Linked DNA regions of Homo sapiens. The protein of the gene in region 1 purifies or fractionates together with the protein of each later gene. This does not show direct contact. Each region holds a gene or a part of one and is shown in the gene's direction. Other genes may lie near its edges. The genes, in order: MFAP4, TLE3, TLE4 and KCNAB2.

Region 1 (7,430 bases):
CCCACACCAGGCACAGAGGAGGATGTGGGTGGATCAGGGAACGCAGAGAACAACCAGCACAGGCCTAACCCAGGGGCGGAAGCCATACCAACTTGAGCAAATGTCTTACCAAAATGACATCGAGGAAGCACAGGGGGTCATCTGTTTTTACTGAGCCATCTGGGTTTGACAATATTACAGCATACATTACAATGACTATTACAGAGGGTATTTAGTGGAGACTTTTTTGTACACTTGCAGCCACTTCTCCTCCTAGTCTCACACTCGTTTTCTGTATTATAGTCAGGGATGCCTCTCTCCCTGAATCAGTCCAGTTTCCATCAAGTAACACTCAGGTTAGGACAATTTGAGTAGCATTTAATAAAAGGACTATTTGCTGAGGTGTAAGCAGGAGATGGCCCCCTATCTCTGGGCTGGTAACACCAGGGCTGTCAACACCCCTAGACCTGAAGCGGGCAGAGGAGGAAGGAGTCACCCACAGTGAGTCAGGAGGCTGTATGGAGATGGCTACCTGGCAGGACTTGAGACTGTTGGCTGAGAAACAAAACCAGTGTGTGGGGACTCTACAAGGAGGGGAATGAATATTCCTACTTCATTCTCCTTCCCGCTGAATCCTGATAAGCTCCTCATTGGCTGGACCCAATCAGAAACCAGAGGGTGAGGCTGGCCTTCCGGGGCCCAGGGCAGTAGGGAGAAAGGTGGGGAGGCAAATGAAAGGTGTCCAACTGCACTCCCCTTGCCAAGGGATGCATAAAATTACCCAAGCAAGGCCAATGGGATGGACCCTCCTCACTCCTGGAATCTGGCAGACAGACAAAGCCATAGCCATGTGCATTGAGCAGCATCAACCCAACATTGTCCCACCACAGGACCCCCACTGAGGGCCTGCTTTCCAGAGCCCAGGGCAGCCTCAGCTCCCACCCACCCCTAGTCTAGACTCCCAGCAAAGCCTCCCAACAAAGTCAGAGTTAGTGTCTGTTGTTGGCAATGACAGAATCTAGACACAAACATCTTTATGCATGTGAGTTGGGGGTCTCTTTCAAAAACATCAGCAGGCAGAGCAAACTGATCACTGGGAGGGCTGAGAACCAAGCTCAGGGCTTTGCAGCCTAAGCCTAAGCCAGTGTCACTCAGCACTGTGCTTGCCAAGCCACCACCAACCACCCAGAGAAACTAGGACCCAGACAGCACTGGGGTCACCATCGCCCCAGGAATGGATTCTTCCTGCTTCTGCTTCTCAAATCACTTTCTCCCAAAATGAAGCCCAGGACCGTGCATTTTATCAGCTAAACCAAGGCCATGTGCCTTCAATCAAACTGCAAGGAACCCTGGAAATGTGAACACCCAGCATTCTAGTTAGGAGAGGAACACCCCAAATGTGGGAAGAGGTTTCCCATGCTGGGCAGCCAACAAGTAATGTCCCCCAGCTGTATCTGTAGCCTCTTCAACATGTCAGAGTATTTCCTCCAGACAACACCTTAGAAGGATTACCGACTCTGGGCATGTTATTACCAAATTTCTTTACCACAAAAGTTAAACTAATTTCCAGCCACATCCAGTGAACACAGTGCCTGCTTTGCTGCACCCACACACATTATTGCATTTTTTAAGTAAAAACTAATTGGCAAAATGTAATTGATACCTCGTATCTTAATTCTCTCTTTTCTAGGGGGAGAAGGAGTTTCTATGTTTGCTCATTAGTGGTATTCTCCAAAAGTCTTCAATACTTGACTTTGGACCATTTTAGTATTTGTTTTGATAACTGATTTTTTTTCATTATTTTCCCTTTTATAGACTTGTGTTAAAATTAGCTGGCATTTGCTGAAAGAAGAGATCAGGATTAGATTCAGCTGTGTGTAACAGAAAAAAAAACAACAGACACTTAAAATACATAGAAGTTTCTTTCTCTCCTGCATAAAAAAGGCCTAGAGGAGGGCAGTCCAGGGCTGTTTTTGTACCGACTCCACAAAGTCGTGAGAGGCTTTGCCAGTTCCTCCTCTGCCATTCCCTGATGAGGCCTCATCTTCCTCATCCCCACTGTCCAAGGTGGCAGCTAGAGCTCCAGCCATCACATCCAGCAGGACAGAGGGCAGGATGAAGAGGGACAAGCCACCTACCTTTACAACATACCTGTTGGCATCTTGTTGGCCAAAATTCAGATGTGTGACCTCACCTAGCTACAAGGGAGGCTGGACAATGAGCCCAGATAAAAATCAGGATCTTACTACTGAGGACTAAGGGAAGAACGAGTATTGAGAGCCAGCCAACTGTCTCTTCCACAGGCAAGCATACAAGCTGTGTTGAAGACAACCCATTCATATGAGAATCATGATGTTTATGATGACGATGACGATAGCTAATATTTACTAAATAGCTGCCATTTGTAGGCACTGTTTTAGGAACTTGATATGTATTACTTAATCCTTACCACACCCCTATGAAGTAGATACTATGACTATCCTCATTTTACAGAGGAGGAAACCAAGGCACAGAGAGACTAGGTAATTTTTGCAAGGTCACCCAGCTAACAGGCAACAGAATCTAGATTTGAACTGAGGTAGCCTGACACAAGACACAACTATGAATAGAGGCAATCACAGAACCAAGTCAGGGAGGCCAACTGGGGCTTTGCCAAGGGGCTTATCTATTGACTCAGGAGTGGAGAGATGGGACCTAAGCCAGAGCTGCCTCATCACTTTGCCTTTGAATATTTCATCTGTTCATCCATTCAACACAAATGTCCTTTTGTAATACACCTTACATTTGCAATTCACTGTCCAAAACCTGTGCTTGCCACTCCTTGTGGGGCAGATACTGTATCCTCAGCAGCCAGCATAGCCTATAGCACACAGCGCTCAAAAGATATCTGTGAGCCAGGTGTGCTGGCCCTGTAGTCCCAGCTTCTTGGGAGACTAAGGTGGGAAGAACATTTGAGGCCAGTTCAAGACCAGCCTGGGCAACATAGGGAGACCCCCCCCATCTCTACAAAAAAATTAAAAAATTAGCTGGGTGTGGTGGCACACCTGTAGTCCTAGCTCCTTAGGAGGCTGAGGTGGGAGGATCACTTGAGCCCAGGAGCTTGAGGCTGCAGTGAGCTATGATTGCACTTGGGCAACAGGGCAAGGCCCTGACTCTAGTATCTTATCTATATATAGATATAAATACGTAAGTGACTGTGCATGTACATATCAAGCCTACTCTGTGCCAGGCTCTGTGATGGGCACTGAGCATGCAGAAATGAGACACACACCCTGCTCACTGGCCCTTATGGCCAACAAAAGGAGGCAGATGAGCGGGCACCACAAGGAGCAGCACAAAAGAGTGGGGACCTCCATGGTGAAAAGTCTGGAGTGGCTGCACTGTAGTTTATGAGTCACAGCAATAAGGGACAAGGTCCTCAAGGTAGGCCAGAGACAGACTTGAAATTCCTTTCATGTCCAAGGTGAGAAACCTAGCCTCAGCCCTGAGGCAATAGGGAGCCATGAGGCTTTAAGCAGGGTGACATAATCTGAGAGGCCATCTAGAACAACTCTCCTGGTAGTGTGCCAAGGATAGGAGGAGAGAGCCCAGAAGTAGGGAGATTCAGATGAATCTGGGAGGTGTGGGAGCCAAAGTGAAGGGTTTGGAAGAAGAAAGGAGGGGTGGAGTGAGGAGAAACAAAAGAGGTCCCATACCTATTGCATGTGAGCCAGATGGGCCAGGGAACTGTGGGAGGGGAAAAGAGTGGGCCTGAGGTGGCCAGAGTGAGGGGGGCTGGGGAGGGGGACTGGAGAGGGGCCCTGGCCTGAGCTGGGGCAGACAGAGCAGTTGGACGCCAGCAGCCTTGTGCTCATGGCTCAGAAATGTCCCAGGCCTGCCAAGAAACTGCTGCCTCTGTCCCCCCACCAGCCCCAGCCAGGCTCCCACATCAGGAGCTCTGAAACTGTCCCCTCAGCCTTCTGCTCCCCCAGAGCAGGCCTCCCGTCCCCAGAAGCCAGGCATATGACACCCCCACTCTCCCTCAGCCCTCCCCCTCAATGGCTGATGAAACACAGGCCAGGGAAGGAGGGGAAAGAATAAACAGACATCTGCAGGGGGGCCCATCAGGAAGTAGGGGGCAGGCTGCGGCGGGCTGGGGCTGCCTGGGGGCGCCAGGGGGCCCACAGGTCTAGCAGGGTGGGTGGCAGATGGCGGATAGCGGATGGAGTGGGATCCAGGGAACAGTTGGAGCCAGCAGGGAGTTAACGTCTGCAGTACTTTGCCCGACAGGACTAATGAGACACAGGTGGTCCCCTGGCTCCAGCCCCACCTCCCAGCCCCCTGATAGTGTAAACTGATGCTGGTTGTCTGGGGTGGGGAGAGGGGGGTTCTGCAGCTACGGGAAGGGGGGCGGGGCTGGGGCGGCTGGCGGGGGCCCAGCGCATAACTCTGGGCGGTTGCAGTCTGGGGCCGCAGACACCCAGCCACTCTGAGCAGAACTGACAGCATGAAGGTACGGGGCCCAGGGTCGGGGGACTCATAGCATGGGGGAACTGAGCCCACTCCAGAGGCCCCTGGCCACAGAGGGCACTATGAAGGCACAAGGAGTTCTCTTGAAACTCGTAAGCTATGAGGGTACACAGCGTCCCAGAGAGTGGGGTTACTTGGCGGGCGGGGTGGGGGGGCAGGGAAGAGGGGCCAAATAGCAGGAGAGGGATTCAGGCAAGGGCAGTATGTGCATGCATGGTGGGGGCAAATGCAAAGAGAACAGGGGATCTCTGGAGCTGGGAAGGGGCTGTGCTGACCCTGTCTGCCCATCGCCAGGCACTCCTGGCCCTGCCGCTGCTGCTGCTTCTCTCCACGCCCCCGTGTGCCCCCCAGGTCTCCGGGATCCGAGGAGATGGTAAGCAGCCCCACACTCACAGACGCGGCCTGGCCCACAGGTTGTGCAAGAAGAGGCTGGACTGTCAGAACAGACTGTCAGGGCCGAGCCCCAGCTCTGCAGGACTCAGGTTCCTCCTTTACAAAATGGGGCAGATGGATGACATAAGCATTGCTCATCTCCCTTGAAGAAATCTTCCATGACTCCTTGTGTCAAAGTCCCCCAGCCCCAGGGACTGAGGCAAACCTTGGGGTGCTGAGGTGTCAGTGATGCCATAGTCCCACTCTCCTCACTGTCCCCATGTCCCTACCCCCAGCTCTGGAGAGGTTTTGCCTTCAGCAACCCCTGGACTGTGACGACATCTATGCCCAGGGCTACCAGTCAGACGGCGTGTACCTCATCTACCCCTCGGGCCCCAGTGTGCCTGTGCCCGTCTTCTGTGACATGACCACCGAGGGCGGGAAGTGGACGGTGAGTGGGAGGAGGGAACAGAGGCCAGAGCTGGTTCTAATCCCAGCCCTGTGACCCTGGGCTTCACATATGCGAACCTCAGTTTCTTCATCTTTAAAATGGGGATAATGATACCCACAGCACAGCTTCTGAGCAGCTGCCAACGCTTAATTCTAAGTGCCTGAGGTAGGTGTTTGTTTGTTTGTTTTGAGGCGGAGCCTCACTCTGTCATCCAGGCTTGAGTGCAGTGGCTCCATCTCAGCTCACTGCTGGAAACTCCACCTCCCAGGTTCAAAAGATTCTCCTGCCTCAGGCTCCCGAGTAGCTGGGATTACAGGCATGTGCCACCATGCCCAGCTAATTTTTTTATTTTTAGTAGAGATGAGGTTTCACCATGTTGGCCAAGCTGGCCTTGAACTCCTGACCTCAGGTGATCCGCCCGCCTCAGCCTCCCAAAGTGCTGAGATAACAGGCGTGAGCCACCGCGCCCAGCTGAGGTAGGTTAATGCACATAAGCCTCACAATAATCCTGGGAAGTAGTGAGGAACTAAAGCCCAGAGAGGTGAAGTAACTTGCCCAGATCCCACAGCTAGGCACTCGAACTCTAGAACGCCTCCCTCTTAGCCTCTTTCCTGCCTCTATACGAAACTGGGTATGAAGAGCCCAGGTGGGTGCTGGCAACTGCTCCACAGGGGGCCTGGTGCCAATGTGGACGTTGTTTTAGCAACCCCACTCCCACCACCCTCCCCACCCCCAACCCAGTCCTTTAACAAACTGGCCACAGCATCACAGGGTCCATGCTTGAGGTGGGCAGGGCAGGACCAGAACCTTGCCCATTGGACCCTTGATGATCCAGTCTCATCTTCTCTGCTCCAGGTTTTCCAGAAGAGATTCAATGGCTCAGTAAGTTTCTTCCGCGGCTGGAATGACTACAAGCTGGGCTTCGGCCGTGCTGATGGAGAGTACTGGCTGGGTAAGGCAGGGACCAGGTGGGCTGAGGGGCTGCCCCAGGGCCAGGTCCTTGTTGACCAGCTGCCCCTCCTCCCCAGGGCTGCAGAACATGCACCTCCTGACACTGAAGCAGAAGTATGAGCTGCGAGTGGACTTGGAGGACTTTGAGAACAACACGGCCTATGCCAAGTACGCTGACTTCTCCATCTCCCCGAACGCGGTCAGCGCAGAGGAGGATGGCTACACCCTCTTTGTGGCAGGCTTTGAGGATGGCGGGGCAGGTATAACCCGCTGTTAGCTTTGGGAGGGGCTGTGAGGGGAAAGAAGGCAGGGCTGGCCCTGCCCAGTCAGCCCCAACCTCCTTCAGGCCCCTCCTTCAACCCTTCTGGATCTGGAAGGGCCACAGCTGGCTCCAAACAAGCTCAAACCAGCTTGGGCCTCAGCCCTGGGGAGCAGCCATCCTGGCCCTGCTCCAGGCAACTCTGTGGTGGAGCAGCTGTTTCTCTTCATTGCAGAAGCACATCAACCCAACATCTGGCTCAGGGAGGGTGCCCCCATCCCGCCAGGCTGCCACGTGATATCTCTCACAGTCGTCATTGTCACCCTCTCCCGGCCAGCTCGGGGCTCAGTTCCCTGCCTCAGCAGCCCCAACCCTTCTCTCCTCTGCCAGGTGACTCCCTGTCCTACCACAGTGGCCAGAAGTTCTCTACCTTCGACCGGGACCAGGACCTCTTTGTGCAGAACTGCGCAGCTCTCTCCTCAGGAGCCTTCTGGTTCCGCAGCTGCCACTTTGCCAACCTCAATGGCTTCTACCTAGGTGGCTCCCACCTCTCTTATGCCAATGGCATCAACTGGGCCCAGTGGAAGGGCTTCTACTACTCCCTCAAACGCACTGAGATGAAAATCCGCCGGGCCTGAAGGGCTGGCCCCCTCAGGCACCTTTCCTCCCCTGGACACCCATGGTCTCCATGAGTGCTCCCTCTGCTGCCCCTGATGCATGCTTCTGCTGATTCCCGAGCACCAACTCCTTACAAGGGGGCCTTGTGGCTCTCAGCCATGCCACATCCCTGTCACACACCCAGGGCATCCATTCCTAAGCCAGACCCGGCTCCCCTACACCTGAAGTTACACTGCCAGCAGTTCCCCAGGCCTCTTCCGAGAGGCACATGGTTCTAGCCTGGACCTGGCT
Region 2 (7,023 bases), on another chromosome or scaffold:
AGGAAATTTGAGGCTCCAGGACTTGAAGTAACCTGCCCCAGGCCACACAGCTAGGAAGTGCCAGAGCTGGGATTTCAATCCTGTTCTGTCTAGTTCCAAAGCCTCCACTCTTCCAGTTACCCCGTTTTCCACCACTGATGTCCGGTGACGTTAGCTCTCATTCCACTGGCCCCCAGCTCATCTGGCTCTGGGGCCTTTGCTGTGATGACCTGCCCTGCCCCTGCTCTGTAAGGCAGGCTTGGAGTTCCTAAGAAATAAGGAGCCTTCCCCAGGGTCCAGCCTCAGGGTGGAAGATGCTGGCAGCTAATGCTGAAGGCATGTATGCATGAGCAAACACTGCCAGGGCTGTGAGCTTAAAAATGGATCCCTCTCTACTCAGAGGGAACCCCATGACTCTGCGGTTTTTTAAATGCATGCATTCTTTATCTCAGGCTTGGAAACAAACATTGAGAAATTATTTGTGAAACGGGGGTGCAGGGAGTTGGGGGGTGCTTGAAGACATAAATCTTTACATTACAGTCTATTAACAGACTTCCTTCAGCGAGACATTCATGTGAACTGAGCTGGGGGCAAAGGTTTTGGGGGTGCTTCCCCCTGCCACCCACCCAGTGAAGGAGCAAGAGGAATGGGAAGAGCCACTCCCTCCCTCCCTCCTGAGGTGGCCACGCCTCCCCTGCCCTCCCCAACTCAGCTGTACTCACCACCGACTTCATTGCAGCAGCAGCAGCTCCAGGCGCAGCACCTCTCCCATGCCACACACGGCCCCCCGGTCCAGTTGCCACCCCACCCGTCAGGTCTCCAGCCTCCAGGAATCCCCCCAGTGACAGGGAGCAGCTCCGGGCTGCTGGCACTGGGCGCCCTGGGCAGCCAGGCCCATCTGACGGTGAAGGATGAGAAGAACCACCATGAACTCGATCACAGAGGTGCGGCTGGGCTGGGGCAGAGGGTGGGGCGGGGCAGGGGTGGGCATGGGCGCTCATAGGCCTCACAGTGAGTGGACCCAGCAAGTGCTGTCGTCCTAAGACCAGGAGTTACCAAGGATTTGGAGTCATCTGTTGATACCTGGTGCAGGGAAGCCAATGCCATCCGCATCCCATGCACCTTTTCCTACTCCTTGGTGTGGACCTGGTATTCTCTGTCCTGAAGACCCTGTCTGTTCATCTGGAGCTCGCTCCCATCTTCCTACAACACCCTTGCCTGTCCTTCAGGGGCCAGCCCCAGTCCAACCCTTCAGGATGCCTTCCTGGTCAGACTAGGGGCTTTTTCAAGTTCCTGTAAGAGTTTAAGAGTTGGGATGCCAAAGTTGAGTCCTTGTTACTGTCGTCTTACATCCTACCCCTGGAAAATGTCTTGTGCTCACCACGATCATTAGTTCCCTAGGACAGGTGCCAAGTTCTTGGGTGTTTTCCTTACATCTATGTCTCACCAATGCAGAAACCTGGGAAAGGTGCACAGTCAGTGCTCAGGTAAAGGTTTGTTAGCTGACTGCCTGTAAGTGGGGGTAGTGCACACCCCAGCAAGAGATCACATAGACTTGGAGTCAGAACTTGTTCTCTGACCCTCTCTGCAGCCCCTACCATGAGGACCCATGAAGCTGCACCGAGCTTGGCCTCAGGAGTGGTTCATTGGATCAGAAAAGAGAAAAGCCTGGCTCCCTGGGAGGCCCTTTTCAAAAATTGGTGCCAAATGCACTCTGCCCTTAGATACGGTATTTACTGGGGCACGTAGCCAACACCTTCTGAGCACTAGGGACCTGGAATGTCACCATCCTGCCTTGGCCCAGGCCACAGGGTGGTAGCCGGTCCAGGGAACTGGAGGCTACATTTTTTTGTCTTACAGTAGGATGGTCCTTTTGGCAGAGGAAGAGGGGCCTCTCCATAGCAGACAGGAGAACTGGGGAGCTAGTGCTTAGCTGGGCACAGTTTCAGAGGCTTCAGCTTTTAGGGGCATCCTGACAAAGAATCACAGAATGGTGTTAATTTCAAAAACAAAATTAAACCACTGTTAAATTCCTTTTTTTTTTTTTTTTTTTAACAATAAAGTTCTTAACTCCCAGGTCCTACTGGTATTTTATATGGCATGATCCTTCTCAAGCTTGTGATCTTAAGACCCCTAGCCTGCTAAAGAGTAAACTTGGTGCCCTCTGGCATGACAGGGAGAACTGGGTCAAAGGCCTACCCTCCCCACCCTGGGGACTGGGCCTCCCTTGCCCACCCTGGGGACTAGAGGGGTGGGGGCAGCATTGGAATTTGGGTGGCAAATTTCCAAACCGAGAAACGCCACCTAATGGCCCTGCCTTGGCTGATCCACGGAGACAGCAATCCAGGCCTTCTGCTCATTTTAAAACCAGTGCACTAGCAAATCACAAAAGCCAGCTGGACTTAGACTGACCTTTTTCCTTTCTTTTTTGTCTTTTTGTTTTGGGGTGCCTGACCTTCCTCCTGTCCTGGCCTTCTTTCCCCAAAGAGAGAGAATCCAGTGCGGTAAGTGTTGGCACTCTGGAACCCGGAGGGGTGTTTGGGTGCTGGGAGGAGGTGGGACTCGGGGCTCCCAGAATCGCGGGCCTGAGACCAGTCAGTCGGTATCCAAAGCTGGCTTCTGGGTTCCCGCTTCTGCTCTGTGGGTTGTAACTAGGGATTTTGTTGTTTGTTTACTCTTGCTGAGCTGGGAGCTTCAGTGCTGATGTCTTAGTCCAGAGCCAGTGGCAGGGTGAGGGGTAGCTACTGTCATAAAATGGGAGCTGCTGTCGTCACCTGTTGAGAGTGACCTTCAGTTGTGGAAGCCCTTCCTCTCTCCAGGCTTTAGGTCTGCCATTTGTCAAATGAAGAGCTTGGGCTAAATGAGCTCTAACTCCGTTTCATATGAGAGGTGATACTCTGAGAGGTCAGCTGACCAGCCCTGGATCTTCCATTGCGAGGGGCTTTGTGGAGTCTCTGGGCTAAACCCAGGGCTAAGGACCCAGGTGTCCCATGTTCAGGGCCAAGGTTTTTACCACCCCCCTGCTAGGATGCCTCCTGTATGATCTTGCATCCTCCTCATTCCCTTCAAACGCCTGCAGTTTCTCCCTGCTCTGGGCTTTCACTCGATTTAAGAAAGTGCTAGCAGGCGAGCATTAAGGCCAGGCCGCCTGCGTGTCTGCCAGCTCTGAGATTTGTTGTAAATCTTTCTGATCACACTGAGGCTCCGAGGTTCTGTTTCAAGTGAATAAGCCTTCTGAATAAGCGCAGTGGAGTCTGGATAAAAAAAATCCTCCAGCGATTAGCAAAGCTATTTTATTCCTCATCGCTGTCCTTGTATCTGGGGCCATCTAATCTGTTAGGATGGCTTTGGTTATTACCTCGTGTTAAGTAGGACTTGGAAGGTCAGGCAGTTAACTAACCATCTAGACAGCAGCTTCCTTGCGCAGCTCTCTCCAATCCAGCCCTCCTTCCCTTCCTGGCCCTCCCCCTACCCAGGCTGACTTTTTAAACCTCCCATTAGCAGTGAGGCTGGCGTCCGTGGCCTCTTGACCCGCCTACATGCTCAGAAATCCAGGACCACATTTGGGCTGAGGAATGGCTAGGTACCTAAGAGAGGAGTCATTGAAGCTGAAAATCCATGTTCACTGCCTCGGTACTGATCCTCTAACAGTGGCATTTTTTCGGAGAGGCAGTTTGCCTAGATAGGCGGAGGCCTGGATTGGACATTTTAAGGCTGAGGTCTGGTCCCAGCTTTATGAGGCCCTGTGTAGTTCTCTTGGCCTCTCTGAGCCTCAGTTTCCTTATCCATACCATGGGAATAATTCCTGCTTGACCAACCTCTCAGCTTTGTTTCGGAAGACCCTTTATAACCTGACTGAGGATCCAGATTACCTGGCTAGCAGGGACCCACTTCAGTGGAATTGGAGGGGGAGTGGGAAGCCCAGCACTCTCTAAAGAGCATGAGTCTTTACCTCATCCTCATCCCTATTGGCTTCTGGCTTTGTGCCCCATCTGTGAAAGTTTTCTGCTAAAAGACCCCCCCTGGGAACCCCCAAGAGCTGGGCTGTTTACCATGCTCGCTGAGGTCCATGCATGGCACACATGGGCCTCAGGAAACTCCAGTGGGAATGAATCAAGATGCTGGGCAGAGGCAGCAGTGGGCAGGGCCGAGGCTGTGCGCATGGCATGTGGCGTGGTGACGGTGTCAGCGGCGGTGTAGACTGAAATAATCAGGCTTTGGAAACCAGGTTGTCAACAGATGAGGCCTACGGCAGGAAGGACAGGGCTGTGTCAGAGTGGGAGGGGGGATGGGGGGACGGGCTGGAAGCTGTCCCAGAGGGGTTAGTCTGGAGTCCAATTAGTGGTAGCTTCATTCATATTTCCTTGCCTAGCCGAAGCAATAAAAAATACTTAGTTTTTTGGCCGCCTGCCAGCCAGAGGCGGGCTGGATCGATGCCGCTAAATGCCTGACATGACTCTCCGGTAGCGGCGAGGGTTTTCAGCCTGACTGCATGAGAAGAAAGAGCTCGCTGTTCTCCCGAGCCGAGCACCGGGTCGCGAGGAGAAACACGAGCAGCCGCACGCCCCCTCCCCTGCCCGCCCGCCTGCAAGGGGCAGCCAGTGCGAGGGGCTGGAAGCATTTCTGCTTAGCACAGGGTGGCCACCACCGTCAGAGGAAATGAAATGAAATGACGGTGATTTTTCTGCCGGCGATTGCAGCAGCTAATTGAATTGTGGCTGTGCGCGCATCGCCACCGCTCCTGCACGGCTGTGGGGAAGGTTGAGCTGCAGTTCCATTATAACCTCCATTTTTTCTTCAAGGCTTGATAACTCTGCCATTTTAATTTGCTTCGGGCAGAAACTTGGCCGGGTAGGGCTGCCCAGAACCCGGCTTAGGAAAGGAAATTAAGTTCTGAGGCTGGTTGCCGCACTATTCCCACCGAATACTGCCCAGCCCCGTTCCCTCCAAGTGGCCCTTGCCCCTGAGCCACGCTTGGCCTCTGGGAAAGTGGAGAAGAGAAGGGAAGCCTCATTCCACTTGCCTTCTGATGCTCTTCTCTTCTGAACAGATGTCCCTCTGGGTCTCCATATGACCTCCTGTGTTGCATGGGGACTGGGACCTGGGATGGCCTGTCCTTTTCTTCCAGCTCCATCATAGCTGGACCATGAGCTCCTGGAGGGCAGGGATTGTATCTCATTCATTCTGCCACTCCTGGCCTGCAGCACCAGGGCTGACCCAGGGCAGCTGCTCGGAAATTGGTGGGTGGGTGAAGGTAAAGTTTGGACTCTTAGAAAGGAGTAAACCTCACCAATATCATAGAGGGGCATTGGTCCTGATATTAGTCTCTGGGCACAGAGGTTTGCTGGCAGGTGCCCTTGCCAGTTGCACTTCCCTCCCTGCTCCCCAGCTCGGTGGTAACAGCCACATGGTGATTTCTGACCACTATCAACCCCTAGGACTACTCCGTCATCTTCCCTCTTCCCAGGCCTCCCATCCCAAAGGCTTCTCATCCTCATTTGCTTTATAGTTGAGGGAGAACTCACGAAATTTTGGGGTTCCCTTTGTGCCACCTTCTGCTAGGGGAGCTTGGGCACATTCACCAACCTCTTGGGGTCTCCACTTGGTGATGGCTACAGAGGCAGTGACTGTCCCTGCCCTTGCTCCTTTCCCTGTCTGTCAGAGGGAAAGGCTTCATGACGTGGCATTTTTGTTTTTTTTACAACCCTGGTGTTTCTCCAGAGTTGCTGACAGCCTCACCGTGGAGGCGGGGGTGTTCACACAGAACGCTTGGCTGCTCATCTCCACTGGGAAGTTGGTGGCTGCCTGACGCCCTCCTTCCCTATCAATCTCCCCATTCCTGTCGGGCTCAGCAAATGAAGTATTGCTCATGGCCCCTGCCTGTCAGCTCAGATCCATCTTACAAGACTCAGTGCAAATTCCACTTATCCCTCCTTTGAGCAAATGAGTGTGGCAAGCGCGAGATGGGTGGTGAATGAGACCCAGGTGACCCTCGCCCTCACAGAGCGTAGTCCCACAGGCCAGAAGGCAGACGGCTTACTGCAGGGTTAATTATTTAATAGCAGTGCAGAGCTGCAAAAGAGAATTGGGGATGCGCCCAGGGCATCTCCCCGGGGACTCAGTCTCAGGGGAGTGGGGAAGGCTTCCCTGGCAAGGCTCTGATGGAGCCACGATCTGCAGGGCAGAGAGGAGTTCAGCTTCTCTTCCCTCCCCTGACCTCCGTGTCACCTGCACTTAGCTGTGTGCGGATGTGTGAATTGTTACACGCAGCAGAAAGTTTTAACCCCGAACCCTCTTTTTCCTTCCAGAATAACTCTGTGTCACCCTCGGAAAGCCTCCGGGCCAGTGAGAAGCACCGGGGCTCTGCGGACTACAGCATGGAAGCCAAGAAGCGGAAGGCGGAGGAGAAGGACAGCTTGAGCCGATACGTACGTCCAAGGCGCCATGGCACCACTGGGGTTTCTGTTGGGTAGGGCAGGGGGTGTCTGCAGGGCCCAAGCTGTGGCCAGGGTCTTCTTGTGGTTGGCAGTGAGTCAGAGAAGCACAGGTTGGCGATAGGGGACCCTATTGAGGAGAGCAGGGTGGGAACAGGGCTAGGGTGAAGTTCACACACGCTATGAGCATGCGAGCCACTGTGGGGCGGAGGTGGATGGGGAGGTCGTCCTAGCCTCCATGGGGTCTCTTCCCACAGACAGGCCAACAACCCCATGCTGCTGTCATGGTGCTGCCGGAATCCCACTTGGCTCTAAGGGGCTGCTCCCAGTGACCCCCAAAATGTGGACCCTATAGTCCTCTCAGTTGGCCTGAGGCATGCACTCACTTGGCCACCCAGTCATGGCTTTTACTAGCCTTTTAATGGGATGCCCCCGGCACGTGAGACCCTAGTGGAAGCATGGCTGTTGTGTTTCCCCTGTGTCAGGCTGTGCAGGGCTGAGAGCTGGGACAGAGGGAAGGGGAGGATATGGTGCAGGGCCTCAGCGGTCTTGCACCCAGCCCTCTTCAGCCACATGGCTGCTGTGTGGCTTTGGACACATTGAGCACCCA
Region 3 (7,023 bases), on another chromosome or scaffold:
CTCTTTTGTTTCTTTGTTAACTTTTCTATTAAAGAAAATCAAGGCCCAAGCTGAAGAACCTCTTCCATTTCTTTTCCTCCTTTCCTTTTCTTTACCTTTTTACTGTTTAACGTCATTGTTAAAACCATGTTCTAATTGCTGGTATATGTCATTTCATCTTGTTAGAATGAAAAATCTACTACTCCCGTCTCAAAGTCCAATACCCCTACTCCACGAACTGATGCGCCCACCCCAGGCAGTAACTCTACTCCCGGATTGAGGCCTGTACCTGGAAAACCACCAGGAGTTGACCCTTTGGGTTAGTAAGAAAAAAGTTTTTTCTATATTTTTATGCTCGTTTTTAAGAATTTAAAGCAATTTAAGGAGTACAGTACATTAAAAGTGCTAATGACCAGCATTGAATGGCTGTTAGACAAAGTTACTTAACCTGAACCGAGCACCTGGGACCAACCTTGTCTGGCACATGGTAAGTGTTCAATAGAACAAAGTGAATGAGTGAATTCTGAAGGCTTGAATGACTTTTGAGAATATTAAAATAAGCTCATTTGAACCATAGATTCTATTTTGTGACATGTTTACAAATGTCTTCACTGTTGTTTCCTGTGTTCTTCATTTTTCTTCCATCCATTTTGGTTTGCAGCCTCAAGCCTAAGGACCCCAATGGCAGTACCTTGTCCATATCCAACTCCATTTGGGATTGTGCCCCATGCTGGAATGAACGGAGAGCTGACCAGCCCCGGAGCGGCCTACGCTGGGCTCCACAACATCTCCCCTCAGATGAGCGCAGCTGCTGCCGCCGCCGCTGCTGCTGCTGCCTATGGGAGATCACCAGTGGTGCGTTTGTGAGCTTCACAAATAATATTTTAGCACACGGAGGATTGTCATGCTTGATTGATTGCGACAGGGTCTCGCTCTGTCACCCAGCCTGGAGTGCAGTGGCATGATCTTGGCTCACTGCAGCCTCTGCCTCCTGGGCTTAAGCGATCCTCCCACCTCAGCCTCTCAAGTAGCTCGAAAAAACAGCATGCGCCACCATGCCCAGCTAATTTTTAAAATTTTCTGTAGAGGCAGGGTTTCACCATGTTGCCCAGTCTGGTCTCGAACTCCTGGCCTCATATGATCTGCCTGCCACAGCCTCCCAAATTGCTAGGATTACAAGCATGAGTCACCATGCCTGGCCTATCTATTTTTTAATGTAATTTATATAATCTAAGGTATTTAGAGATCTGTGGGTATTTATAAGTTAAGCTACATGTGATTATAATCTTGAGGTCCATTTTCTTTTGTAAGGTGAAGAAGTTTCTTTTTTATTTTATATGTCTTTTTAAAAGAATACTAATTTTAAATTTTCCAAAATGATACTAATTTTGGAAACTTCAAACCTACAGAATTAGATCACATAGTATAATGAATGTAATGACTCTTTGGTTCTACCATGAGCTTCAATAATCATTAGTATAATTTTTTAATCTGTGTTCCACCCCCAAGTATGTTACCATTAAATCCTAAACATTGGTTATCATTTCACCAATAAATACTTCTGTATATATCTCTAAAACCTTATTTTTAAAGGATCTATTCTCCCAGGTTTTAGAATAGATTTTGAGAAGGATAAAACAAGTCAAATGTAACTGTGCTTATTTCTGTTGTTTGCTTGGGAAAAATTCTAGGTGGGATTTGATCCACACCATCACATGCGTGTGCCAGCAATACCTCCAAACCTGACAGGCATTCCAGGAGGAAAACCGTGAGTACCTTTTTGCCTCTGTGCTCATTGTGTGTCAAACTCAGGTCCCTTGCTGGCCCCGTAGACTTAGAATACCACTAGACAGTGTTGGGGGAGTTCCCATGACTTGTATTTTTTTACCTTGCAAGGTATTTTTCATTTTCTCTTAGCACAAGAAGAGAAGTAATGAAGTGGGGTTTTGCATTGTAAAATTTTGAGCTTTAATATGTAAATGCAAATTGCAGAGGCATCTCCAGTAGTCAGGTCTTCTCTACATCTGTTGCAGATTTCAAGGCAATTCTTTGTTCCAAAAGTCTGATTATTATGTGCAAACCTGAATGTTCAAAATTTGAATATGTTGGGAAAAGACATGCCAAACCTCAAAGGCTGAAAGGAAATAAGGGCACTCTTATGCTTAGTTCTGTTTTCAGAAAAGGTGACTTGCTTAGTTGGCTTCTTATACCGTGCTCTGGGCATCTGGAGCCTCTGTATTCACAGATTCCTTGAGTTAGGAAAGACAAAACACAACACACCAGTTGTTCTAGCCTTCTCTGAACGGATCTCATTCCAAATACTTTATTTTAATCTAATGCACCTTTTTATTACTACCTAATCACAGTTGTCTCTGCTAATTGGCTTCATCTTCCCAGAAACAAAGATTTTACTATAAAGTAGCACTGGCTGTTTCTTTAAAATCCCAGCTGGCTGCTTTCTCTCGCTTCTCCTTTGGGAAGCCTCCCCCGCAGATCCTCCTTGCCTTGTTAGTCACCTGTGTGTGTGCATTTTTCTCATCACTCTTTCTGTGGGCATCCCCTCTGTCACTACACATGCCGTGTATGTGCTGCCTCCCCAGTCTCCAGGGCTATCCAGACCTGACCCTCAGTAGCAGCTCAAGGCGCCTTCTCCCAGAGGCTTCCCTGGTAGCTTGCCTGCCTTGAGGTATTTTGTCCTTACTGTCCTTCTTCCTGCAAAACTTTCTGTGGCTTAGTGTCTCATTTAGTTATCTAAGATGTCATTATGTCAGAGCGTTCTGCCCTGACAACCCTATTATCCCTCTTTCCCTTCCTCCCTATTCTTTCCTCTTCTACTACCTTTTTAATGCTTTTTTATAGCCATTATCTGCCTCTCCCTCTTGACTATAAGTTCCATGAAAACAGAACAGAACTTTCTGCTATTCAGTTATAGAAGCAGTCTCACTGCCTAGAATGGTACCTGGTTCATAGTGGTGCTCACGGTATGGATTTATTCAGGGAATGGATATGTGCTGATTTCTTTCTTCTCGGACCTCCCATTGCTTGTTTATTCACTCCCACACACTCGGGCACTTAGTTTTCACCCTGGTGTTAATTGCGTGCCCTCTTCTCCCCACATCCCTTCAGTGTTGCCTAACCTAGACCCTTTCTTTACTTTCCATCTGAGGAATCCAAATCTCAGTTCTTCCTTTTGTAGCATATTAATACTTCTCTACAGACTCTATCCTAACCTTCCTTTGTTGTATCAAGCACAGTGCTGGCTCCACAGCCAAGTTGCTTGGTAAATATTTGGCTGATTAATAGGGGAGAAAAGACAAATTAGAGTTCCTCAAGAGTTGAAGGTATAAATATCAATTACCATAAAATTCTGTGTACCTGTGTGTGTTTTGCAAATAGTTGTTGACTAACAAGTCTTATTGACCAAGAAACTTTGATGTATTTGAAGGTGAAAGTTGGGTCTATTTCAAGCAATGCTAAATAACAAGGTTATACAATTAATCAAATAATGACTCAGATACCTACAAGTTCCATATGAACTTGTGGGGAAAGTGGAAGGGTTCCTTTAGGGAAGAAGTACTATCCCTTTTTTTTGGTTACTTCTTAGGTAACCAACAGTTGTACCCAGAGCTACAGCATAACCACTAGAGCAAATGAGATGATGCTTCTTGCCTCAGCTGCTGCTTCGAGGGGCAAGGGGTGTAAGTGTCTTTAAGGAAACACCTTGGCTAAGGGATTTGGACCAGTTAAACCACTGTGGAATCACAGCTGCTCTGACTCAGATGGTGCTTCTGAGTCTTGGGCTGACTTCCCTTCATCAGTTTTAACTTTCGATGTTATAAAATGTTTAAATGTTTAAGATCCTTTAGGGTGGGTTAATGGATTGGAGGATTGTTGAGAATTTTTGTTTATGAGAGTGACAGAGTCACATCTACTGCAGTTGGCAAATGACACTTTACCAGGAAAATGACACTACTAAAAAGCATGTGGTGCAGTCAACAGAGTATGGTTTTGGGAGTGTGACAGATCCAAGTTTGAATTTAGACTCTGCCAGTTGAACCACTGAGAAGAGTGGCTTTATGCACAATTTCTTTGTGAGCTTCAATCAGCTCATTCATGAATCAGGGATGGCCCCTCCTCAACAAGAAGGATGTGAAGATAGGAAGTAAGATAATATGTTGTGTGTTCATTCAGTGCCACATTTGTTACATGGTGGCTGTTTAGTCAACCCCAGCATTATTTCCCTTTCAGCTTTGTCCCAGCATATTATTCATTTTTCAGCTACTTATGTAGTAGGAGGTACATTGTGTTTTAGGGGCAGAAGTGACCCAAGAAGATGGGTCATTGGTGTGTCTTTATGTAACAGAGCATGAAGACGTATAAAGTTACATTCACTTATATGCATACAGAGATAATATACTTTTATTATAGATTTTTACAGCAGAAATGAATATAACAGTTATGTGGCTCTCCAGATCATAAGATACTGAATTGTGCAATGTTGTCTTGTGCATATTTTTCAAGACAAAACTTTTTTAAGTGTGCTAGAAAATAAAATAAAAAATCACCTAAAGTCTTCCTCCACCATACATACCCACAATGTAACTACCTTTCTCCAGAAAGACTTATAAAAGTTATGTGTCTCTGTTCTAATTATTTCACACAATGAATTGCTAGATATGATCAGAAATTATAATTAAATGCATGTTCCAAATTAATAAAATGGTGTTTATTGTATAATTCACATTGAATCCTCTTGTCTGCTCAGGTGAATTAGCAGAGGTTCTACTTCATATGTAGTTGGAATAACAGCATAGTTTAATTTCAACATAAGCCAAAAATGGCCCTTCTCCTTCACCTGCTACTCAAATGAGACTTCTATGGCTAGTGTATAACTATTTGATTAACATCACGGTACTAATTGTATGAGATGTGACATGTGAACACAGCAAAAATAAAAGATCTCACGTTAGTGGATTATAGGCTGCTCACAATTCAGAAATCTGACTCTTTTGCATTGATTTATTTTTATAAAGCAAGATTTTCAAATGAGAATAATGCCTGATACATAGTAAAAACCTTCAACGAGTATTTGTTGGCTAACTCACTGGTCTGTATGCTACTTAGAACAGAATTTTCTATCGTATTTCAATGTAAAATACAATAACCAGACCTCTCATTGTGACCTCAAGGTCGAAGCCCATCTTGTGACACATTGGAAATGTGGAGAAGGTACTGTGCGCGTGAGAGATGAGCACAGCATAACAGAACTGGGCCTCAGAGAGGAGAATGAGGGGAAGGTGGGAAAGCCAGTGACCTTCTTTAAATATGCTGGGTCTTTGTCAAGATGATAATCCATATATAACAAGTTTGACACACATGTTTTTAAAAAAGCAAATTGCATGTGTCTGGATTGTTTAAAGTGTAGTTATGTCAGAGAGTCCAAGCCTAGCATTTTCTTCAACTGTCTCTTATTCTCATCGCCATGTTTGTTGGAGAGCCACTCTGCTCGTAGCAGCTTAACCTGTGGTGTGTGTGTTCGTGTTGAGAGGAGGTCAGGTCACTCTATTTCTCTGACTCCCTGCACCCTCTCCCTCCAGCCCTGTATTTCTAGTTATTTGTTGGGCATCTTAGCTAGGGATCTTGGGTGTATGTTACTTGCACCACAAATTCATTATATTCAGAAAGTACTTTTGTAAATTAGGTCCTCTTCCCAGTTTGCCCTTTTTTTGTTAACTACAAGTACCATGTTTCTTTTTTCCTGAGCTCAGAAACTCAGTTACTCTAGCTCCTCCTCAGATCTCGTCAATTTAGTCCTACAGGATTTTATATCCATTGTACCTTCTAACTTGTCATCCTTGCCCTTGCCTGGTTCAGGACCCCCAGTACCTCTTACTTAAATTGTTGGAATAATTGTTGTTGTTTGTTGTTGTTGTTGTTGTTGTTGTTGTTTGAGAGAGAGTCTCGGTCTGTCACCCACGCTGGAGTGTAGTGGCTCAATCTCAGCTCACTGCAACCTCTGCCTCCTGGGTTCAAATGATTCACATGCCTCGGCCTCCCAAGTAGCTGGGATTACAGGCACATGCGCCACCACACCTGGCTAATTTTTATGTATTTTTAGTAGACATGAGGTTTCACTGACTGGTCTCCGAACTCCTGACCTCAAGTGATCCATTCCCCTCGGCCTCCCAAAGTGCTGGGATTACAGGCCTGAGCTACCGCGCCCAACAGGAATAATTGTTTTTAATTCCTCCTGTCCATCCTACTCCTTGCTACCAAGTTTATTTTATGAATAGCTTTGCCCAGTAATGGCACACTCCCTTTATCCCTCAAAAATCTCTTCAGTCAATTCTGGGAAGGTCTCAGGCTGGCATTCTGGTCCTTCCCTTTTATAGCATTACATTGATTTTAATTATATAGAGATATAGATCTGGTATGTTTTTTCAGACTATGCTTGGCCAGTTCCTCCATCCACCTACTGTGTAGTTATTATTGAATGAATTCCTGGATTAAAACCAATTCAAGGATTTCCCAGCTCATTTTACCTCATCCTTTTGGAACTTTTGCTCTCTGCTATTCTTGCTATCTGGAATATTTTTTCCATCTTTCTCTTTACTCGATGGTATCTTTTCATTCTTTAAAAACCCATCTCTATTACCATGTCTGTCTCTCATCCAACATAAACTTTCTTTCCTTTTCAAAACACTTCAGAATACTTTCCATTAGAATGTGACCTGATATTGTCATTTCTGTACTTTTCTCTCATCATGCTAACTAGATTGTTAGTCACTTGTGGGCAAGACCAGGTGCATTACCTAGTTTTGTATCCTTAGCATGACGTTTGCGTCAGAGTATATGGATGGGAGGTACTTAACACATTGTGCATTAAATTAGTTAGAAACAGAGTAGCCCTTTGCGCCTCGGTTTCTCTGATTCCTAGCAATGTTGACTTCCCTCATACCTTCCAGGAGTATTTGCTAGTTACAGTCAAAGAGTTTATCGAAATCTGATAATAAGTATGTACTAGAGCTTTATTATTTCCAGTTC
Region 4 (7,023 bases), on another chromosome or scaffold:
CCACAAGCCACAGGCTTAGATAACTCACTGTCTGCTGCTCCTCTGCCCCAGAGATCGCTGCTAGCTTTTCTCTCTTCCTCCTCCTTTCCTGATCCCCAAATCAGGGACCAAGGAATAAAAGGAAGAGGCCTAGGGCTGAGTGAATTTTCTGTGTGTCTTGACCATAAATGAGGAGCATTCAGAGCGCATGCTAAACAGCTTGCAAATCAGAGCCCATTATTTCTGAGTGGATGACTCAGGCGCTTTTATAATTGGAATGTAGCACAGAGTATGGATCATTCTCCGTCTGTTGTTTTGCTCAGAAACATTTTGCTACAAGCAGAAAGTTCTTCAAAGTTAATCCAGTGCTGCAGTGCCAGGCAAGGCTGGGACGGCCGCCCATGCCCCCAGCTGGCCTGGGTTTGGTGCAGGACCCAGTGATGCCAAACAGGACAGACAGTGGTCCGCCTAGCATCTGACTCTGCCGTTCAGTGCAGGAAATGAGAGGGACACGTGCACCCACACACATGCACACATGTATACACACACATATACACAAGCATGCACAGATCTGCTGGAAATCCAGCCCTTGACCCTGAGTACATGTTGATTGTCTCTCAAAACAGAGCGTGACTTGATGAATAATTTACCTTTGAAAAAAGATACTTGTCCCGGCGCGGTGGCTCACGCCTGGAATCCCAGCACTTTGGGAGGCCACAGTGGGCGGATCACTCGAGATGAGGAGTTCGAGACCAGCCTGGCCAACATAGTGAAACCCCGTCTCTACTAAAAATACAAAAATTAGCCGGGCGTGGTGGCAGGTGCCTGTAGTCCCAGCTACTTGGGAGGCTGAGGCAGGAGAACTGCTTGAACCCAGGAGGCAGAGGTTGCAGAGAGCCGAGATCTCGCCACTACATTCCATTGATAGAGCGAGACTCCATTTCAAAAAAAAAAAAACAAGATACTTCTCTGGAAATTTTGCCCACCTAATGTTGCCAGGCATTTTCCCTGGTGAATTTTCAGCTGACTAGGAAATGGGATGCTCGACAGCAGCTCCTTCCTTCTGTGTGAGAGCTGGGGCCGCCACTGCTTAGACACGTGTCTGCAGGGGAACATGCCACAGCCATCCTAGTGGGGGGCAATAACACAGCTGCTCCCACTCCCTCGGGCCAACCCTGTCTGTGGAATGAGCTACTGAGCCAAGGCGGGTGTTAACAGCCTGGCTCTCTGGCCCCAGTGACATTTTCACAGAGGGAACCAAGTGGCCAGTGGCCACAGTGGGTCTGGGTTTGATTTTTCTGTTTGGCTGTGATGAGAGCTCGGTGTCTTGTTTTGCAGGGCTGAAGTGGTACTGGGAAACATCATTAAGAAGAAAGGATGGAGGTAACGGCCCTGCTCTCTGCGGCCTGTCCCTGGGGTGGGTGCGGGCGAACTATCCCAGGGTCAGCCTCGTCGGCCTGTCGTGCAGTGTCGTAAGGCCCGCAAGTCCCCACATCTTTCTTGCTGGGAAGTGGAGAGGAAAATTCAGTTCTCCAAGAGTAGGAGGTGACTCTGCTTGAGAAAGAAGTTGAAGGGAGGCCGAATACACTGTCCACCCCCACCCTAGCCTGCCCACTCCGCCTCTGTCCCAACTCATCCACAGAGACCCAGAGCACCAGGGTCCCTGCTTGCAAAGTGTCAGGCCAAAAAGAGCTTGGCGTGAGAACGGGCCTGGGTACAGCAAAGGCGTGCTGCTACAGAAGATGTGGGTGCAAAGCACTTCCACTTCTTTGGCTGGAGCACTTAGGGTCAGGGGAGCCAGGGGGCCAGAGAAGGGAGTGGCTCAGAGAGCTTGGGGGCCTGGGGTTGGATCCCACCCTGCACCTTGTCCACAGGATCTTCGCGGCGTCTCAGCCTCTCCGGAGCTCACTGTTCCCATCTGTAAGAGGGTGTGTGTGGGACCGTTCCGGCAGGGCTATCCTGAGGGTCAGTGGCCCCAAGTCTGTAAATCACCCACCCAGCTCAGGGCGGGACGTGTCACACTCCTCTGGGAAGTGGTCCCCTCCAGCACAGACCGGGGAGCGGTCCCCGGGTGTGATGGAGCCCAAAGGTCGCAGATCGGGGGCCATCCACCCTTCTCTCCCAGGAGCCTATGGGCCCTTCCCAGGCCAAGGTCCTCACCCACCTTGGGACCAACTGGGCTGAGCACTTGCCTACATTTTGAGGCTCCCCAGACCCCTGGACACAGCTTTATCTCAAGGTGCTGACAAGCCCCGGGGCCCTGTTCCTTAATAAATGCGTCTTTATTTTCAGAAACATCAGAAGCAGTTATAAAGTTGGGCCTCCCTCCTCCCTCCCCTCGAAATGCCACTCAGAATCCCAGTGCCAAGGGGAGCCCCCGCCCCCTCCCCCATGGATTCCTGACACCCCTTCCTCTTGTCCCATCAAATTTGTTTTTTGGCAACTCTGATCCCAAAACAAATTCCTCCTCACCCTGTAATTAAACGAAATTGCACGTATTAGCAAATCCCCTGATCACGTCTTTGGCGAATGTGCATGGAGGTGGTGTGGGGTGATCCCCCTTCCTGGAGGTGACGCTGCCTCTGCCAGAGCTCTGTGGCCGATGCTTCGGGGCAGAGGAGGCCTCCTACTCCAGCCTCGTGAGCTGCTTCCCTGAGCAGCCCGGGACCCGGGTGGGAAAGAAGCTCAGCCATGGGGCACCAGGAGGTCATTGTCACCCCCTGGGTGGGAAGTACTCCCTCCTCTGGGAGGGGTCAAGGTCAAACGTGGCTGGGAGGGGCCATCATTATCCCCCATCCCACCAGGACAAAGCCACTGGTATGGGCATTTGTCTCGTGTGGACTTAGAGCAGAAGAACGAATTACTTCCCTTTGCGCTGCTCAAGCCCAAATCCTCAGAATTCTCTGCCTCAGCTACTCAAACCCAGAACCCCACTGGCCTGGCCACACTTGGGCTCCCTATGCCTCCCCTCCCTCCTTTGGTGCCCCCCAAGTTACCCCGACCAGGCCGTCCTTATGCCTCCCCTCCCTCCCTTGGTGCCCCTCAAGTTACCCCGACCAGGCCGTCCCACACAGATTTTCTGCAACACGTGTCACATTCTGTAGGGAACGTTGCAGAGAGCTTCCCTGCCTGCCTCCCACCTACATCTTTCCATCCTCAACTCCTGCCAGATCCCCCCAGAGCCCGCCCCTGCCCCCTGGCCCACACCCGGCCTCCTCCAGCCTTGGCTCTTGCCACTTCCTCTACCTGGATCAAATCCATGCACCCCTCATAGTCCCTGAGCCAGGCCCCCCTCCCACATCCTGGGCGGAAGGCATCTCCTCCGGACTCCGGTCACACTAGGCCCCCCACTGTCCAACTCCCACTGCCTGACTCACAGTTACTGCCTCGGTGGCTGCCTCCTGGCTCCATGAGGAGCCCACGCACCCCGGCTGGGCACGTGGTACACATCATATGATGGAGAAGTGCCCATTTCATGCCCCAGGCTCCTGGGTGGGAGGGCTTTCAGGACCTCTGTGTGAGAGATGAGGACGTCGGGGATGAAGGAGGACCCCCCAGGGGCCGGGCTTATCACACCCCTTCTTTCTCTTCTGTTCCACAGGCGGTCCAGCCTCGTCATCACCACCAAGATCTTCTGGGGCGGAAAGTAGGTGCAACAGCTGGCGATGCTTCCAGCCCCGGCCCAGCAGCCACGGCCCCGTGCTCCCCAGAGACCCCTGACCTAGAAGGCTCCTGGGGTGGCGGGAGGACAGTCCTCCTTGAGAAGGGAGAGTGGTCGGGGTCTGTCCTGGACAGGCCCCGGCCCAGTGCCATTTCCTGTCCCCAGCAGGGGCAGAGCTGGTGTTTCTGCAGCCATCAGCTATGCCTGGTGCCTGTCCCTGTTAAGGGACGTCAAATCCAGAAAAGAAGCTGTGGCCGAGTTTGCCTTTTACAAAAACCTCGCTTAACTTTCCTTTTTACTCACATGGATTATTTTTTCCTGGTCACTATGGTAACATCATAAAAATTATAGAGAAAACAGAAAATTTGTGAACTGCCCAAACCCCCAAAGCACTCCAAATTCCCTGGGCCGCCTGTCACCCCTGCAGGTCTCCAAGTGTCTAGCTCCATAGTTTCTGGGCTGGACACACTTGGGCTCATAGGAATTATAACTACGATTCATTCATTCATTCTTTTTTTTATTTTTATTTTGTTTTTATTTTTTATTTTTTTGAGACAGGGTCTCGCTTTGTAATCCAGGTTGGAGCGCAGTGCCACAATCACAGCTCACTGTAGCTTCAAACTCCTGGGCTCGAGCGAGCCTCCCACCTCAGCCTACAGGGATGAGCCACCATGCCTGACTAATTTGTCCTTTTTCTCTCTCTCTCTTTTTTTTTTTTTTTTTGAGACAGGGTCTCACTTTGTCACCCAGGCTGGAGTACAGTGGCGTAGTCCCAGCTCACTGCAGCCTCAACCTCCTGGGTTCAAGTGACCTTCCTGCCTCAAGTAGCTGGTTCTACAGGCACATGCCACCATGCCCAGCTAATTTTTTTATTTTTATTTATATTTTTATTTTTGTATTTTGTAGAGATGGGGTTTCATCATGTTGTCCAGCCTGGTCTCAAACTCCTGAGTTCAAGTAATCTGCCCACCTCAGCTTCCCAAAGCACTAGGATTGCAGGCGTGAGCCACCACGCCTGGCATTAATTTGTCCTTTTTTAAGATATGGGGTCTCACTATGTTGCCCAGGCTGGTCTTGAACTCCTGGGCTCAAGTGATCCTCCTGCCTTAGCCTCCCAAAGTGCTGGGATTACAGGCGTGAGCCACTGTGCCCAGCCTGATGTGTTCTTAATTTAAAAAATAATAATAATAATAATAATAATAATAAGTCCAAATCAAACAGACGGGTTAGGTTGAAAATCAAAGCCCCCCACCCCCTGCTGCTGCCCCCCTCCCCTCTGAGCCCTGTGACCAGGCCTCTCCCTGGGCCTCTGGGAGTTCAGCCCTGTAGCCTCGGGTCCCTACCCCCAAAGTGGAATCCGACTCCACACGGCATTTGCTGACCCTGTTTTTGCGTCTAACATTGCATCGTAAACGTTTTTTGGGAGGGGCCAGGGTGCCAAAACCGCTGGTGACATCACACGCGGTCGGCCTGTTTTCCAGGGCGGAGACGGAGCGGGGCCTGTCCAGGAAGCACATAATCGAAGGTGAGGACGCGCTCGGGCACCTCAGGGCCCCCATACCTGTGGGATCATCCTCGGAGGCCAAAGTGATGGCAGCACAGGGCCCGACCCCCCCAGTTAACCCACTGAGGGCCCAATCCCGGGGCACCCGGTGCTCTGGCCTGACCTTCTCCTTCCACCCAGGTAGCACAGCGGGACGCTGCAGAGAACGAGGGCAGCCCGGTGGCTGAGCACAGACCACAGACCAGCCTGGGTTTCAATCCAGGTTTGGCCCCACACTGGCTGAGTGGGTCTTCAGCAGGGGCACCCTGCCCCATGCCTCTGCCACAGTATCTGTGCAATAGGGACAGTAAGAGCGCACCCGGCGAGGGTGGCTGGGATGCCTGCAGCGCCCAGGAGAAGGTGCCACACAGCCCGGGGCTCAGCACTCGCAGGCACCGGAGCAAGGCACCGGGGTGTCTGGCTCTTGCTGTATCTTTATTGTCTTCATGCCTTTCCTGTCCGTGTTCATTTTCTTCGAGGTAATAGATCATTCCATTGAAAATCACCTGGCGGGGCAAGCCACCCACTCCCATCCTCCCCACCCCAACCCAGCGTTTCACTCTGCCGGCTGTGTGTCCTGAGCTGCTCTAAGCACCAGCGGGTGGCTTGGGCGTTTTAGACACTATTGCCATTGTTTTTGTTTTTGAGATGGAGTTTTGCTCTTGTTGCCCAGGCTGGAGTGCAGCGGCACGATCTTGGCTCACTGCAACCCCCACCTCCTGGGTTCAAGCAATTCTCCTGCCTCAGCCTCCTGAGTAGCTGGGATTACAGGTGCCCACCACCACATCTGGTTAATTTTTTTTGTATTTTTAGTAGACACAGGGTTTCACTATGTTGGCCAGGCTGGTCTCAAACTCCTGGCCCTCAAGTGATGCGCCCGCCTTGGCCCCCCAGAGTGCTGGGATTACAGGCATGGGCCACCACGCCCGACCATAGACACTATTGCCTTTGATGGGACGGGCAGCAGGTGTAGCCCTCCCTCCACATGTGATAGATAAAGTCATCTCCCTGTTGTAATACACAGTGGCCTCAGAGGAGGGTATATTGTCTGAGGGAGGAGGGGCTTCCCCTTCATTTAGTCAAGGACACGTGGCCTGTGGTCCCCCGATGTCCTCCTGAAGGGAAGATCCCCCCACTCCCTGTGGGATGTGCCCCCACCTCTGCCGTGGCATTTCACGACCTCCATCAGCTTCTGGAAGCTTCCAGATGCCAGAGGCCTCTTCTCCATCTCTTGTTCCCTGAGCCGGGCATGGATGGGCCCAGGTGCCTGTGGAGATGGAGCCACAGCAGTGACGCCCCCCCACCTGGTCCTCCCCCAGGTCTGAAAGCTTCCCTGGAGCGACTGCAGCTGGAGTACGTGGATGTGGTGTTTGCCAACCGCCCGGACCCCAACACCCCGATGGAAGGTAGGTGGTCTGCGGCGGCGCCACCGGTTAGGCCTGGGCGGGGTCTGAAGGGTCTGAACCTGGGGTTGTAGAGGCCGCCAGCATGGGCCCTGCTGGGCACCCGGGTGAGCCGTGAGAGGAGGCCGGGTCCAGGGTGGGGGGCGAGGGGGCAGGCCTCCCCTCAGTAGGGGGTGAACTCAGCCTCTGGCTGCAGACCCCTCGCCAGGTGCACCTGGCACCTCCAGGCTGAGTCCCTGTCCTGGCTTTGGACCCAGGCCGATCCGCCCTCCGAGTCAGAGCCGCAGTGGAACTGTCCCCTCCCCTCTGCGGCTGCTATTTTGCAGCTAAGTGAAGTCGCAGTGTGGGGACTCCAACTGCGGTGTTCTCTCCAATCACCATCCATTGGGAAGCTTGGGGGGACTTTTTTGCTCTGGGGGATAAATTACTACATAGAG

The links.
Region 2: the proteins of MFAP4 (region 1) and TLE3 purify together in Homo sapiens (co-immunoprecipitation; 2 studies listed by BioGRID and IntAct, with this or other methods). This does not show direct contact.
Region 3: the proteins of MFAP4 (region 1) and TLE4 purify together in Homo sapiens (co-immunoprecipitation; 2 studies listed by BioGRID and IntAct, with this or other methods). This does not show direct contact.
Region 4: the proteins of MFAP4 (region 1) and KCNAB2 purify together in Homo sapiens (co-immunoprecipitation; 2 studies listed by BioGRID and IntAct, with this or other methods). This does not show direct contact.

What each region holds. Positions count from the first base shown.
Region 1 is NC_000017.11:19,384,191-19,391,620, reverse strand, and holds the start of MFAP4 (microfibril-associated glycoprotein 4 isoform 2 precursor), read left to right. Parts: upstream 1-4,430; 5' UTR 4,431-4,465; coding exon 4,466-4,471; exon of another isoform or gene 4,472-4,502; coding exon of another isoform or gene 4,503-4,580; intron 4,581-4,782; coding exon 4,783-4,861; intron 4,862-5,156; coding exon 5,157-5,311; intron 5,312-6,166; coding exon 6,167-6,263; intron 6,264-6,339; coding exon 6,340-6,522; intron 6,523-6,911; coding exon 6,912-7,159; 3' UTR 7,160-7,430. UniProt on the Homo sapiens protein: Could be involved in calcium-dependent cell adhesion or intercellular interactions. May contribute to the elastic fiber assembly and/or maintenance.
Region 2 is NC_000015.10:70,059,914-70,066,936, reverse strand, and holds part of TLE3 (transducin-like enhancer protein 3), read left to right. Parts: intron 1-718; coding exon 719-923; intron 924-2,466; coding exon 2,467-2,483; intron 2,484-6,287; coding exon 6,288-6,407; intron 6,408-7,023. UniProt on the Homo sapiens protein: Transcriptional corepressor that binds to a number of transcription factors. Inhibits the transcriptional activation mediated by CTNNB1 and TCF family members in Wnt signaling.
Region 3 is NC_000009.12:79,707,953-79,714,975, forward strand, and holds part of TLE4 (transducin-like enhancer protein 4), read left to right. Parts: intron 1-165; coding exon 166-298; intron 299-640; coding exon 641-834; intron 835-1,670; coding exon 1,671-1,747; intron 1,748-7,023. UniProt on the Homo sapiens protein: Transcriptional corepressor that binds to a number of transcription factors. Inhibits the transcriptional activation mediated by PAX5, and by CTNNB1 and TCF family members in Wnt signaling.
Region 4 is NC_000001.11:6,083,887-6,090,909, forward strand, and holds part of KCNAB2 (voltage-gated potassium channel subunit beta-2), read left to right. Parts: intron 1-1,317; coding exon 1,318-1,362; intron 1,363-1,368; exon of another isoform or gene 1,369-1,944; intron 1,945-2,271; exon of another isoform or gene 2,272-2,485; intron 2,486-3,580; coding exon 3,581-3,625; intron 3,626-5,121; coding exon 5,122-5,165; intron 5,166-6,502; coding exon 6,503-6,589; intron 6,590-7,023.